Linked DNA regions of Homo sapiens. The protein of the gene in region 3 interacts with the protein of the main gene of each other region in a pairwise test. Each region holds a gene or a part of one and is shown on either strand. Other genes may lie near its edges.

Region 1 (4,142 bases), on a different chromosome or scaffold from region 3:
AACTTAAGAGTAAAAGCCGGGCAAGACGCGGTGGCTCACACCTGTAATCCAAGCACTCTGGGAGGCCGGCGGATCACGAGGTCAGGAGATTGAGACCATCCTGGCGTGAGCCACCATGCCTGGCCTTCAACTCACCAGGATTTTCTAATGTGATAGAAGATAAAAGAAAAATTGTACAGTAAACGATTATTTCATAAAACTTTGTCTCTATATGGGTGCATCAGATCACAGATCAACTATGTACAATCTTTCTTTAGGTCAAGGTCAGAATAATTAGAAAACCACTGCTCTCAAGAAAGCCCTTAAAAATGGAACACTCTTTTGATTTAGGACCAACAACCTTAAAATACATTCTGTTCCTAAGAAATAGTGGAATGAAGCCAGGCATGGTGTCACACACCTGTACTGGGAAGGCTGAGGTGGGAGGATCACTTGAATCCAGGAGTTCAAGGCTGCAGTGAGCTATGACTGAGCCACTGCACTCCAGCCTGGGTGACAGAGCAAAACTCTGTCCCCCTCCAAAAAAAAAAAAGAAAAATAGTAGAAAGAGCTGAAACAGAATCCTTGGTGTAATACTGTCAAATATATGTATGTTTGGTTCCCATTTCCTGGCATACAATTTCTAAAATCCTTGGAATAACCAGCGTCTTTTTGTATGCTAATGAGATGACTGGTGACTGGCAGCCCCTAGGTGGCTTCATGATGGGTGAGGGTCATAGTAGGAGGTTGGGACTTTTCAGTCTCACCCCTGACCCTCCAAGGAGGGGCTGAAGGTTAGGTCAGTAACCAAAAGCCAATGATTTAATGAATGCTGACTACATAATGAAGCCTGCATAAAAGCTCAGAAGGACAAAGTTCAGAAGAACTTTTGGCTGGGCATGGTGGCTCACACCCCAGGAGTTCGAGACCAGCCTGGCCAACATGGCGAAATCCCGTCTTTATTGAAAATACAAAAATTAGCTGGGCGTGGTGGCATACACTATAATCCCAGCTACTCCGGGAGGCTGAAACATGAGAATCCCTTGGAGGTTGAAGAGAGCCGAGATGGCGCCACTGCCCCAGACAGAGCATGGAAGCTCCAGACCCGTTCCCTCTACACCTTGTCTTACATATCACTTCATCTGTATCTTTAAAAATATATTAATAGTAGCCATAAAAAAAGAAGAAAATCATGTCCTTTGCAGCAACAAAGATGCAGCTGGAGGCCACTATCCCAAGTGAATTAATACAGAAACAGAAAACCAAATACAGCATATTCTCGCTTACAAGTGGGAGCTAAACACTGGGAACACAGACACGAAGATGGCAACAATAAACACTGGAGAGTCCAAGAGTGGGGAAGGACGGTGGGGGGATAGGGGTTGAAAAACTACCTGTTGGATACTGTGTTCACTGTTTGGGCAACGGAATCATTAGAAACCCAAACCTCACGATAAGGCAATATACCCATGTAACAAAACTGCATATGTACCCTCTGAATCTAAAATTAAAAATACATAAATACACAAAATAAAATACTTTTATAATAAACCAGTAAACATGTTTCCTTGAGTTTTGTGACCAAATTAATCAAAGCCAAGGAGGGAGGTCACGGGAACTTTGATTTATAGGTGGCCGGTCAGAAGCACAGGTAAAACAACCTGAGGCTTGCCATTGGCACAGAAAGTGGGCACAGTCTTGTGAGACTGAGCCCTCCACTTGTGTGATTTGATGCTATCTCCAAGTAGAGAGCTTCGGAATTGACTTGTAGGGCACCAAGTTGGCATCCCCTGCAGAGCTGACTGTTTGCCTGATGTTTGGGGGAAAATCCCCACACACCACACATCAGGTGTCAAAAGTGTGTTGTGAGTACAGCAGGAGAAACTGAGTGTGCTTTTTCTACACACTTGGTCAATTAAATCAGCTGGAGAATGAGGAATCAAGGAATCACGCTCCTCTGAAGTGGGTAAATGAGGGAACTCAGCATATTCTTTTATAGGCCCTATAATTTTCTCTTTAAAATGTTTACAGTTTACAAGGTGATTAAACCTTCACTTCACTGTCACAATCGTTCTCGAAGAGAGGAATGCTGGGGTGATTATCCTCGGATAAATGACTTACAGCAGTCCCAAAATATTCAGGCCCTGGTTTCCAATTTTGAATAACAATCCACAAGGGCTTCTTTCCCTTGCACCTGAACTGCAGACAAGCCTCCGCTAAAACCCCAGCTTTGCCACACACTCTGTAGTTTTGGCAAATCCCGTGCTAGGGGATAAAAATATTACTTGAGCCACCTAGAACTAAATGATGGCACCTTAAGAGGTGCTTCGGGAGGAACCGGAGCCCCTCGCTGGGAGCTGTCATTCCTTGGTCCCTCTCCAGCTCCAGAGGAACCTAGTCAGGAAGCCTCGCAGGGCGGAGCCATCCGAATTGTAAACAATGGCGGCCTAGCCTCTTCCGTTCCCCGAGGAACCCGGAGGGCGAGCCGCCTAAGCTGGACCTGAGGGTATCGCGGATTTGCGTCTGGGGCCCCGGAGACCCTCTGTAGCCCAGGGCCTGCTGACATCCCGAGAGCCTCTGGAGCCAAGGCCCGTGCAGCTCTGGTCTCGAGGCCTTTCCCCGCAAACCGCAGGTCCGGCGAGGACTCGGGACCCCGAACTCACCCAGCTGGCGAGGGAGAAGACACCCAGCACAGCCCCCATGGTGACGCCAGTGATGGAGGTGGCCGGTCCTGAGGCTGCTTTCTAACACGGTGGTAACTGCCAGCTGAGGTGACTCCCCAGAAACATGACGGTTTCTCAGGCCGGAAACGCAGCCTTCCACAGACGCACGGATGCGTCACGGCGTGGCCCCGCCCACCGTCCGCGACCGGAGCGGCAGAGGGGGGCGCCTGTCATTGGCTGAGGGGGAAGGTGGGGCTAAACCATCCTGGGGTTGCAGGAACTGTGAAGGTGTCATTCCTTACATCATTTGTATTCATTGTGCAAAGATCTGGAAGTTACAGAAGTGTACAGAGAGGCACAGTACGCTCAGAATTTATTCTCTAGTTAATAGGAGATCTGACAACATAAATGCACCGTGCCCCAATGTAATGAATACGATGAAGTAGTATGGGGGAATAGGCTTTCAATAAAGGTGTATTTAGTGCCTCCTATTGTAAGGGGAAAGTAATTTAGCTGGGCAGTAGTCTTGGAAGGCTTCTCTGAAGGATTTATTTTTTAATCTGCGAACTAAAGGATGAGTCCAAATTAACCTAGAAACGATGGAAATCGTATCCTAAAATGTGGGATGCACCCCATTTGGGAAAAATGAATGGCTCTAAGGGTGCATGAAGGACATTAAGCGATATTAAACAGCAGAGTGAGAACGTCCCATTTCAAACCAACAGGCTAGTTGTTTGAGGCCAGTATGGTATTTAACATTTTTCTAGTATTTATCTCCCTTTCTAACAGAGTAAAGCCTTCATTTTCCAGATCTCTCAAACAGGCAACCATGCCTGCAGTTTTAAAATATTGTTTTGTTTTGAGGTGTGTGTTAGCAATAACCTTTTCATTTCTTCCGAGCAATGCTGATTTCCCATTTAAGCAGTGATGTAAATATTCCTTTCAAAATACATGTCAAATTTGAGAGTTCACTTAAAGAAGAAAATGAAAACATTTTTTACTTACACATATAATAGTTTAGGTGGAATGTGGCAAACAATGATGATGTCCGGACAACAAGGTGTCACACTTCAATATCTTCTCCTGTGGTGTGTTAATCTTCCCTGATAGATAAAACTCTCTGGAAGGGGATTCATAATTGAATTCCTTCTGGATTGTCAGCCTTTAGTCTGATAAGGGAAATTCATGAAAAGCCCCTCTCTCCATGTGCTGTTCCCCAAGCAATCATCATACCAGTGTGGCATATTTGGGGATGTTATTTCCTGGATTCCTTGAAAATGTATTCCAAATTCATCTTTTACAGAAATGGAATGAGGCTCAAAGTTTGCCCAAGGCCATGAAAAGGGCTGATGAAAGAAGAAAGAGAACTACTCACATTTAATAATTCCTACCTCTCTTTTCCCAGATCCCTCTCCTCACCACACATACACAAATACCAGCTCAAGTCAAGTTGCTTCAGGACCACTGAACTTTCCAGGTAGTCCTTAACATTCTTGCTTC
Region 2 (3,500 bases), on a different chromosome or scaffold from region 3:
GTCTCATCCTGCCTGCATGTTGAAGACAGTCTCTCTTGGCAGGCTGCAAGATGAACAACGTTAATGTGGTATATACGCCGTGGTCTAACCTGAAGAAAACAGCTGACATGGATGTGGGGCAGATAGGCTTTCACAGGCAGAAGGATGTAAGTGTTTTGTGCCACTGAAGGAGGCGGAGCCCTGATACTGAATGGAGTATCCTATCTTTTCTGTCTGACACCATTGTTGTTGAGGGCTGAGCATGATATATGTTTTCTAAAGGGAATTAAACTGGGTTGCTAAACCCCTGGAAAGCCTCATCCCTCTTCTGGGAGAAAAAAAACAAAAAGATGCAATATCTTTTCTCCTATCTCCCTTAAAGGTAAAAATTGTGACAGTGGAGAAGAAAGTAAATGAGATCCTGAACCGATTAGAAAAGACCAAAGTCGAGCGGTTCCCAGACCTAGCAGCAGAGAAAGAATGCAGAGATCGTGAAGAGAGGAATGAGAAAAAAGCCCAAATTCAGGAAATGAAAAAGAGAGAAAAAGAAGAAATGAAGAAGAAGAGGGAAATGGATGAACTTAGGTATGTCGGAGCTGTGGCATTGAGACTGACCTCAAAGATTATTCCCTGATGATTTTAATCATGTATTAGCCATTAAGAACGATATATTGGTGGAAGGAGGGACATGTAACAAGCTCAGCTTAAGCTCAACCTTAAATCAGTTTTTTAAAAAAAGGCATTTATATTAATGTGTTGGTTAAAAGAATTGCTTGTTTATGGCAGCAGGATATGAAAGTGGATGAAATAAAATAACTAATTTTATTCATAGAGAAACCTTCATAGGTTATCCCTAGTTTGGTTTGGTTTGTAAAGTTCTTCTGGAAAGGAAAAGGTGCTGTGGGAGGTATTTACTATTGACTAGCTGTGCTATTTAAGTAAAGTTGTGTTGGCTCTAAAAACCAATGCTAGTAACTCTCAAAGCTGTTTTTAAAACTCTTTTTTACATTTTGAAAGTTTAAAGTAATGTAGTGAGGTCTGCTTCAAAGCACTACATTTTTAAACAGCTAAATAGTTCAAATACAATTTGGCTCCTGAAATTCTAGTGAAGAAGGCCATGAGAATAATGATTATGTTAGTTTTCTATTGCCATTGAAACAAATTGCCACAAATGTAGTAGCTTAAAACAACACACATTTATTGTCTGTAGATTAGAAGTCCAGCAAGATTCTCACTGGGCTAAAATCAAAGTGTCTGGAGGCACTAGGGGAGAATCTTCCCTTTCAGCTTTGAGAGGCACCCCCATTTCTTGGCTTGTGGCTCCTTCTCCAAGCTTTCCATGGTCACAGCCCCCTGTCTGACCACTGCCTTTTCTGCTTTTAAGGAACAGTGTGATTAGATTGAGTTAATCCAGATAATTCACAATAATCTCTCCATTTTAAGGTCCTAACTAATGACATCTGCAAAGTCTACTTTGCCATAGAAGATAACATATTTATAGGTTCTACAGACTAGAATGTGGATGTTCTGCCATACAGTGCTGTACCCGCAGAGCCCCTAGTTGTTCTAATTAAAGGAAATTAATCCTGCGAATTCTCATCACAGAACTCCTAGATTTTTCCATGTTTGTTTATTTGCAATACATATGCCAAAAAGAAAAAAGAGTTACTTATAACATATATTGCCTTTGGAAATGGTGTAGAATCAGAAACATGTTGCTTAGGCATGTCCTAACCCAGTTTCCTTGGAATGCCCTGGATTCTTAGAAAGATTGTTGGGTCAGAATGTAGGTATAATGAACACGTACTGTTATTTATTATTCGCATGCACGTGTTTCTGGTTGGGGTTCTGCTAAAACAGGCTTCACTTAAAATACAGTGTTCAAATGGAGAGCTTCAGAAATGTTACCCTGAGTTACAATCTGCTAATATGAGGCCAACTAACATATATGTTTAAGTATTTGGTATGGCCTAGAATTCTGAGTCTGCTTTGTGTTTGAAGTGAAAGAAACGGTATTAACTCCATCAGTGAGGTAAAATTTGTGAAATTCTGAGTGATGCAGGATTTAGAGCAGTTAATTCTTTTTTGTTTTGAGTTTGGAGTGGGGGGAAACTGAAAATATGCCTTTTAGTGCCCTTTACGGATCGAACATAATTTTGTTTAGGAACATGATGGAACATATATTAGGAACATAAGATCACCTAATTTACTTACAACATTGAATAAGGAAGACTAGCTAACCCTTCTGAACATTTTCCATCTGCCAAACACTGCATTGCAAAGTGCTTTACTGCATTCTGTCATTTAATTCCAACAATAGCCATAGTAGATTTTTATCTGCATCTTATAGAAGAGGAAACTGAGCCTGAGAAGCAATCAAGAAACTTGTTATAAGCTCATTTGGCTAGTTAGTCTCAGTCTGATTCTCAAACCTACACATATTACTTACTATACTCTTCTTCCCTTTGTTCAATTTATTCCATTTTAAAGTAATTTTTATTCAATATAAATCAATCAAGTAATTTATAGATGTCATAATTCAAATTAAGCTGCATGCTACTAAAATTAAGGACATTAGTATGATTTTTATGAGTTTCAAAAATTACAAGCATTTAAACAAAATTTGTCCACCAAAACACAGTTTCGTATCTTCTGGGCTTTTTTCCATAGTGTCATCAACATATAAAATACTCCTATTAACTGAAGGGAAAACTCAATCTTATTGAATAAGATTTTTCCTTCAAAAGTTTAATCAGTCCCACTTTCTAAGTTGTCACTGGTCATTTGTATTTTTTAATAATCTCCATGGATCTCAGAAAACCAAAAACAATTGCTATGTTTATTTCCGTTAACCGTGTGCCACACAGACAACTTTCTGTCACATGCTGCAGAAGACAGAAGAACGTGGCACAGGGCTGCAGTGCCGGGAATGGAACGCGGTGACATTGCAAGTCTTTGCTTGGCACATCCAGAGCTGCCGTTTGCTGTGTTCTGCAGCATCTGTGAAATTCCAGCAATAGGCTCTAAGCTTCTGACTTGTTTTGTAATGTGTTTTTATACATTTTGCAGTGCTAGCATTCACTTTAATTTCTGTCTTTGAATCTTCCACCCAAGATATAGAAATCTGTGTCTATTACCTGTTTTAATTTTGCATTCTTTTATTTGGCTTTTTGTGTTACTGTACCAAACATTTATTACATCAAAATTAAGTCAACCCATGTAGATGTCGAAACCAGAAGAAATAAGCAATAGTCAGGGAAACGTCATAAAGAGGATGGGTGAATAACAGATGAGAGGTTGAGGCAGTCAAAACAAAGGGTAAGGACTATGACTACCTGAGAGAGGGATATTTAAAAGTTGAGATGCGGCCAGGCAAAGTGATTCATGCCTGTAATCCCAGCACTTTGGGAGGCTGAGGCAGAAGGATTGCTTGAGCCCAGGAGTTTGAGATCAGCCTGGGCAACAAAATTAGGACTGTCTCTACAAAAAATCAAATAACTAGCCAGGCGTGGGTGGTACAA
Region 3 (4,859 bases):
TTAGCTGTTACCTACAGTGTCTGCTCTATACTGGGCTACCTACTTTTTAAGGCCAACTAATTATTTGAAAATTTATTTAAAGTTTTAATTTGAGATCAAAATCTGTTTCCCTCATAAATTTTTTTTAAAAAAAGCAAACAAGATCTATTCCATTTTGATCTAATGTTTTCCTGTCACCTTACCTTTAAGTGCAATAATGGGAAATTCTAGAAATTCCTTCTTTAACTGTTTGAAAAAATACCAAAACTATGACAGCCTGTCCAAATCCACTAAAATATATTTTTATATGCATGCTTTTTGTATATCAATTATACTTCAATAAAGCTTTTTAAAAAAATAGTAGATGACATACTTTTAAAAATTAACTTTGGAGCCCAGGTATGGTGGCTCAGACCTGTAATCCCAGCACTTTGGGAGGATCACTTGAGGCCAGGAGTTTGAGACCAGCTGAGGCAACAAACTGAGACCCCCATCTCTACAAAAAATAAAAAATTGCCAGAGCATGGTGGCGCACACCATGTAGTAGTTGGGACCTGTAGTCCCAACTACTCAGGAGACTGAGTTGGGAGGATTGCTTGAGTCTGGGAGGTGAAGGCTGCAGTGAGCCATGATCACACCACTGCACTCCAGCCTGAGCAACAGAGAAAGACCCTGTCTCGAATAATAATAATAATAATAACAACTTTTGATATCTCTATTTTTTCCCATAAAAATCCAAAATTTTCTGTTTACTTTTTGGTGCTCTCATGCTATAAAGTAAATTCTCCCTTGGATTGGACAAGTTATTTTCTGTTTTCTACATACACATAGACTGTTCAGCATTCCAACTCAAATTACATATTACTTTTTCAGCTTTTAATATAAATGCTTATTTACTACAAGCATGGTTTACAAAAATGTAGTAAAATATAGTTACTAACCAGTCAATGCTCAAGCCAGTGACTCCCCAAATGATTCAGTCCCTGAGCTGTTTCACCCAGTGCAGGTAGATTCTCTGACAGCCATCAGTTGGATCTGTCCGAATATCTCCTGTTTTGACAGGGGCTTATTGATGTTGGTCAAAAGACAGGTGTGTATGGGTTCCCTGGGATCATGTTTGAGGGGAAACCTGTGCCAACAGGACTGAGCAGCCACTTTTTCAATGGTATTGAGAAAATTTGTAGGAGATAAAATTTCACCAGCTCCTTGAATCTAGAACTGTAGATATTCAGGTAGCACTGACATTACAACATCTAATTTGTAAGTTATGGGTTAGGGCAAAATCAATCCAGGGCTGCCATCATGACAAGTAGTGGAAGTTTGAAAGAAGGAGAAATACCCAAAAGATATCTTACACATAGCAGGCAGAGTTTCTTAGTACTAATAAAAAATAAAGTACCAGTGATCACCCTCTATAGCCCCTAAGAGTCCCCTGGTTTCACTAAGCCCCAATATTTGTGGCTGTGGCTGAATGCAATCTGCACAAGGTTTTCTTTTTAACAGTTGGAAAAAATCTCATAGCATAGCATTTTTTTCTTTTTAACAGTTGGAAAAATTCTCGTAGCATAGCATTTTTTTCTAGTAAATTTCATATACTTAACAACTTTATCAGCACATATATTTTCCTTCACACTTACAATTTCATCAACACATATACTTTACTTTTTGACTCAAATTCTTCTTGCCATCAATTCAAATGCTCCTGCCCTTAGAATGAGAATTTTCCATTAACCCAGCTTTAATAATCTAACTCTCCCATTCAAATGATGTCACTTCATATAAAACACATTTTATCATGATGTCTCCCAGCCCTCAGTTACACAGTTAATTGCTGCCACTTTATCATGAATGAAAAAGATGTGATTCTTGGGTAATGATTTCTTGAGTATGTCCTGGTCTATTATCTACTGAGTTACCAGAGTGGATTTTTGAGAGAACACACAGTTATTCCTATTCCTTTTAATTTCCATTAACTTAAGCCATATGATAGAACATTACAGTTGTTATATATTTTGTATAAATATAAAATGTAATATATAATTTATATATTTTAAAATATTTAGTGGCAAGTAAAGATAGTAGTAAGTGAAAAAATCACTGTATAACATATGAATCGTAAGTGTGATCCCATGTATGTGTATACCTGGTAGATGCTTGTCAAGGTGCCATTAAGGTCTTGGGTTATTGGCATCTTAATGAAATTCATTTAATTATGTTAGGATTGATTTGTTAGTAAAATCACTTACATGTTTTTTAAATGCATGCATATCTGTGGAGCCAATAAGAAAAATTAGGAACAATATACAACAAATCTTAAGAGCTTTTGAGGATGATTTTTTTTCTTTCTTTCTTTTGTATGTACCTACAAAATTTTCTATAATGGATCTCTATTGATTTTATATTTTTTACTTTCTATTTGTCTTGGAATTTCTATTACTTTATTTATAATTCACTCTAGATTTTAGGTACTAGACAACTACTATTAACTCTCTGGAGAATGGTACTATAAATCTGACCCTTTCTGTCATTTTTTTTTCCTGTGGTACACTAGTGTCTCACAAAGAGTCCACAGAATTCACACGGTCATGATATTTTATAGAAGAAATCATTTTATGGGAACTTTCTTTTGTTAATAGATCCTTCCAATGCTAACATTATTCTGTATAACAGTGCTAAAGTTGGTATGCCTAAATGCTAAACTTGGTATGCTAAAGTTGGTTTAAAAATTAACCTATATACAATCTTCTTGAATAACTCTTCAACTTTAAATAAATTTCTTATTTAAAAAATCCTCCTATATATAATTAAAAATACTGATGAATTTGACTACATAAAAATAAATGCTTATACAGTAAAAAGTACCATAAACAAAGTTATCATCTAAACAAGAAACCTGGGAAAGCTATTTGCCAGCCATTACATGTAAAATTTAAGTTTCCTTAACATAACATGAGCTCTTTAATGTGAGAAACAATAAACAACCTAATTGAAACATGAGCAAAAGCCATGGCTGAGAAAACTCGTAGAAGAATTACTATGGAAACAATAAGAAAATGAAAAGAAGTTCAACCTCATTCATAATTAACGAAATGCAAGTCAAAACAAAGATATACCTTTTACTTATCAGATAAAGAAAAAATGATTTGATAAAACCCAGATTCTTGGTATTATAAATTGGTATAACCTTAACGGAGGACATTTTATGAATATCTATCAAAAACTTAGCATATACAAACAATTTGGTTCAACAGTCTGTTAGAATTTATTATATAGATACATTCATATAAGTACAAAAGTGCATATATGTAAATATTATTATTGGGACATTTTTGTAGCAGCCAAAAGGAAAACTGAAAAAAAAGATTAAGGCTCATTAATAGCAGACTGGTTAAATAAACTATGTGTGAGTACAATGAATGAAATATTGTACAGCCATCAAAATGAATGAGGTAGATTTATATATGCTGATGTAGGAAATCTGCTAGCCATCATAAGTAAAATAAATGAAACAAAGAAGAAAATACTATGATGTACAAAAAGAAAAAACTATAGATATACATATTTATATGCATGTGTATGCATTTTTTATGAATATACATATTTATATGCATGTGTATACAAGTCCTAGAAGGAGACATAGGTAACTATTAGTAGTACCTCTGGGAAGTAAATGCAGAGAAAAGTAATAGAGGGTAAGGATATGTTTACTTTTATTTTACATCCTTCTGTAACTTGACATTTATACGACGCGTTAGCATTACTTCTGGGAAAAAGAAAAACAGAAAAGGTAATCTTTTAAAAAGGTATTTTTTAAATTATGGTACAATAAAATGTGCATAAGCTTTATACTAAGTAATAGAATCATTTAAGTTTAGCTGTAGATTCACAAGTAAAAATCCAATCTATTTTCATATTCTTACATTTATAGACATTTCTTACATGTCTATAGAAAGAAATGGCTAGGAATGAGACTGCACTATTTTACCCTAAAACGTTCTTTTTCTCTTTGCCTAATGTATATCTACAAGGGCATTGGGGAAGATGTTGACCACAGGCAGGAAGATGATGAGATCCTGTGCCCACCACTTAATGCAGTCTAGCTCTATATAAGGAAAAATATGTTCTTGATGTGAACCAGATGGTTTCACTCCCTTCAAAAACACTCTTAAGATGCAGTGTGGAAGCTTACTCTGTAAATTAAAAAATAAAAACCTGACTATATTCAGTGGAATGCGTTAATCATTTTTTTCTTTTTAGGTTTGATATTTGACAAATTGATCTAAAATGGCTGGGTTTTTATCTGAATAACTCACTGATGCCATCCCAGAAAGTCGGCACCAGGTAAATGCCTTACATCTACAGCAGTGGGTCTGTCAGCAGTTTTCTTTAATGTGTCAGCAGTGGGGAGAGCGCAAAAACCCACACACACCATTATCTTGTGAAAGAAGTAGAGGAAGCAGAAAATAATGAAATCCCAGTGTTACCACATCCCCTCCAATATACAGATTAAGAGCGTTTGTATTTATATGGTTTTAAACATAAATAACATCAGAATTACTAAGCTATTTCCATTCATGTACTGATAATGAATCATGTGAGAAAGTCCTTTGGCAAGGACTCCACATGGCCACAGGTGATTCCTTTGAGCAGTGTTCTTCCTGTATAGGGCTTAAGAGGACCAGAAGGGAAATGATTGTACTCTCTTGTCAGCTACTTCCTGGGCGATTTGGGTTCTTTGATACCCCAGTGCTCACTTTCGGAAGTGTTAAGACCATAAACCTTAACAGTTGACCTTCTCACCTTCAGAAAACCCAAATGTCTCGGAGTTTCATTCTCACAAACTTCCACCTTCCTCCAATGATGAGATATAGGAAAAAAGA
Region 4 (3,500 bases), on a different chromosome or scaffold from region 3:
TCTCTCACCCCATTCATCTTTGTTTCATGCCCTCCCCATTTCCACCTCATCCCATTTTCTCTGGCCCATCCAGGTGCCATTCAGCAAATGACCTTGGAGTGCCTGCTCTGTGCTTAGCTCACAGTTGGCCATAGTGCCTCGAAGGTGTGATCTGCTCTCCCCTAACTGTATTAGTTATCCAGTGCCTGTTGTATTGGTCAGGGATTCTGCTTCTCATAGCTCTATAAGTGAGTACTATCATGATCCCCACTTAAGAGGAAGACACTTGGGCCCATGAAAGGGACTCCAGAACCTGTGCTCTTAACCTCTGTACAGTTTATCTCTATTCATCACCATGACATCAAAGCCCTCCCTTTTTTTTTTTTTTTTTTTTTTTTTTTTGAGATGGAGTCTCGCTCTGTCCCCCAGGCTGGAGTGCAGTAGCACGATCTCAGATCACTGCAAGCTCCACCTCCCGGGTTCACGCCATTCTCCTACCTTAGCCTTCCAAGTAGCTGGGACTACAGGCGCCTGCCACCACGCCCAGCTAATTTTTTTGTATTTTTAGTAGAGACAGGGTTTCACTGTGTTAGCCAGGATGGTCTGGATCTCCTGACATCGTGATCTGCCCACCTCAGCCTCTCAAAGTGCTGGGATTACAGGCATGAGCCACTGTACCCAGCCGCACCCCCCCCCTTTTTTTTTTTTTTTGAGACAGAATCTCACTTTGTCTCTCAGACTGGAGTGCAGTGGCATGATCTTGACTCACTGCAACCTCCGCCTCCTGGGTTCAAGCGATTCTCCTGCCTCAGCCTCCCGAGCAGCTGAGAGTACAGGTTCCCACCACCACACCAGGCTAATTTTTGTATTTTTAGTAGTTCACCATATTGGCCAGGCTGGTCTCGAACTCCTGACCTTGTGATCCTCCCACCTCAGCCTCCCAAAGTGCTGGGATTATAGGTGTGAGCCACCGCACCCGGCCAAGCCCCCGTCTTTTTAACCACACACTGTAGGTATTTGTAGAGAAATCAGTTTCTGTGTCCCCATGAACACACCAGGAGCCCCTCAAGGCTCTGTACAGGATGACCCGTGACCCTGTTAGGTAGGTGTTAGTGTGTCTCTCAGAAGGGAAGCATCTTATACAGGGTCACATAACCAGTAACTAGCACAGCCTTTTGAGGGTCTTCTGGAACATTTGGGTTGCTAAAACTATACCATACCCCCAAATATATTGTACATTCTTTGCAGACTTTGCTATTTGCCCGAAGATGTTAAATTTGCCTTTTGCAGGTTCTTGGCTGCCTTCGTGGACTCCGGTGAGGCTTTTTCCTTCTTTCTTATGGAGCAGAGTCGTGCCTGGTTAAATGATTGGCCATGTCCATGTACATGTCAAGTTTGAGCTTGGGAGGACAGTTTGGAGGCCAGCCCTTAACACTTTGTCTTGGGGTCTGTACATTCTGGAGGCGTTTGGCTCAATTTGTTAGTCACACCGTTTTCCTAAGGCTACTTTTTTTTTTTTTTTTTGTCTATTTTTTCTGATCCTTCTCTCTGGTCTAAATTCTTCCTTTGATCAAATCTAACTTTCTTCTATGTAATGGGCACCGAGGAGATATTTGGAGGGGGAAGAAAAGTGTGCAATGGCCATACCTCTTTCCTTGCTCACATTTTATACATAGCCCAGAGTGATGTGAAAATTACAGTTTATATGCCCAATCTGAGAAGAGGGTAATGGCCACCCAGAGGACTGTTCGAGCAGGATTCTGAGGCTCCCTGTAGACAAACTGCAGGAAAGAGTGCAGCAATGGGAATGTTCTAAGTGGGGAATGGGAATGTACATATTTTTGTAGCCTAAAATGACGACACCACCAATAATAGACAAGACTTACTGAAAGCCCACTGTCTGCCACACAAAGACAGTGTTTTTTACGTGGATACTCATTTCATCTCCCACCGGCCCTATGAGGTAGGAACTCCTGTGATCCCTGGTTTATAAAAGAGAGACTAAGGTGCAGGAAAGAAGATGCTTGCCCAGGCTAGTGAGTGTGGTGCCAGGATGTGGGCCCAGGCAGTCTGGTTTCTGAGCCTGTCCTCTTCACCACGGGGCAGTCATGCATCAGGTGTTGCCTTCAATGGCACCATCATGTAGAGACTGCATGGACCCCAGGGCCGCTGCCCTTGCATTGTCAGCCTTACTTCTGCACATCCCATTGAGGGGCTCCCCCTAAATTTTTCATGTGGGATGGAGACTGGAGGTTGGGGCAGGTAGCCTTGACCCCATTGTTGGTGGTAGTTTCTCACATCCCCATCCTCACACAGCCCCCTCCTTCCTGCCTGCTGGAGACAGCTGGTGCCCAGCATCTTGTTTCTGTTTATCCCAGATAGCCAGAGTACTCTGCATTCTTCGTTGCTGGGTGTGTTTGGAATCTCCTCCTACCCCATCTTGCTTGGGAAGCACTTTACCTTTTGCCCCATGTCACCCCATGCCCTGCTCTCATCCCCAGTACTCCTTCATACTTATTACTGGTCAGCCTTCAGCCAGCTGGCAGGCGGGGCCTGCAGTCCAAGGGCCTCAGACTCACCTTTCTCTCCTGAGGCACTGTCTGAGCGCCTATGGAAAGCTTACACTAGGAGATGGGTCAAGCGCAAGTCTGCTCCTTTGGAATCATCTTTTGCGTCTTTCCTTTCTTACGTCCTTCTAGATACCCTATTTTATATCCATGTCTACTTCCTTGGGTTTAAAGCAGTTTTCCTTTCTCTCCATCCCCACCGTCCACGGCAGGTCTCCCTGTCTATGGTAAGAGAGGTGATAGTGAAAGCAGCAGCCATCCCAGGTTCATGGTAAAACACATACCATCTCCTGTATCTTGGGTTTGAGGGTCTAAGAGTTCCACCTGTGTACTGTTGGACCCTTCCACCTGGCTAGGTTGGTGGCATCCCCAGTATTGGTAAAGGACTCCTGGCCCTATTATTATTAATAGCAGCTCCTACTTACTAAGAATTTACTACGTGCTCGGCACTTTACAAGCCTAGTCACATTTCATTCTCACCAAAACTCTAGCAGGCAGGTGCTTTTTATTTGCCTATTTGCCCAGAGAAGCAAACTTCTTTCTGATCCAAGCTCCATGTGGACAGAGACCTCAGAATCCTTAATGTCTAGCTGAATACCTGGCATAGAGTAGATGCTTAATAAATGTTCCCTTGACTGGGTGCAGTAGCTCATGCCTGTAATTCCAGCACTTTGGGAGGATTGCTTGAACCTAGAAGTTCAAGACTAGCTTGGGCAACATGAGGAGACCTCATCTCTACAAAAGTCCCAGCTACTCAAGAGGGTATGGGAGGATATCTGGAGCTGGGGAGACGGAGGTTGCAGTAAGCCGAGAATGTGCCTCCCACCTGGGTAGCAGAACAAGATCCTATCTCAAAAAATTAAAAACATTTACAAATAAATAAAATTTCCCTGGAAAAATGGCTGACTAACACTATTTGTATATGGTAGATGTGATTGTCCCTGTTTTATGGAT

What was found.
Region 1: the proteins of AGTR1 (region 3) and SERINC3 interact in a two-hybrid assay, tested with the Homo sapiens proteins (one large-scale study listed by BioGRID and IntAct).
Region 2: the proteins of AGTR1 (region 3) and CCDC25 interact in a two-hybrid assay, tested with the Homo sapiens proteins (one large-scale study listed by BioGRID and IntAct).
Region 4: the proteins of AGTR1 (region 3) and SAE1 interact in a two-hybrid assay, tested with the Homo sapiens proteins (one large-scale study listed by BioGRID and IntAct).

What each region holds. Positions count from the first base shown.
Region 1 is NC_000020.11:44,519,271-44,523,412, forward strand, and holds the start of SERINC3 (serine incorporator 3), read right to left. Parts: upstream 2,801-4,142; 5' UTR 2,682-2,800; coding exon 2,643-2,681; intron 1-2,642.
Region 2 is NC_000008.11:27,745,141-27,748,640, reverse strand, and holds part of CCDC25 (coiled-coil domain-containing protein 25), read left to right. Parts: intron 1-42; coding exon 43-146; intron 147-361; coding exon 362-564; intron 565-3,500.
Region 3 is NC_000003.12:148,703,708-148,708,566, forward strand, and holds part of AGTR1 (type-1 angiotensin II receptor), read left to right. Parts: intron 1-4,236; 5' UTR 4,237-4,320; intron 4,321-4,859. UniProt on the Homo sapiens protein: Receptor for angiotensin II, a vasoconstricting peptide, which acts as a key regulator of blood pressure and sodium retention by the kidney.
Region 4 is NC_000019.10:47,203,835-47,207,334, forward strand, and holds part of SAE1 (SUMO-activating enzyme subunit 1), read left to right. Parts: intron 1-3,500. UniProt on the Homo sapiens protein: The heterodimer acts as an E1 ligase for SUMO1, SUMO2, SUMO3, and probably SUMO4. It mediates ATP-dependent activation of SUMO proteins followed by formation of a thioester bond between a SUMO protein and a conserved active site cysteine residue on UBA2/SAE2.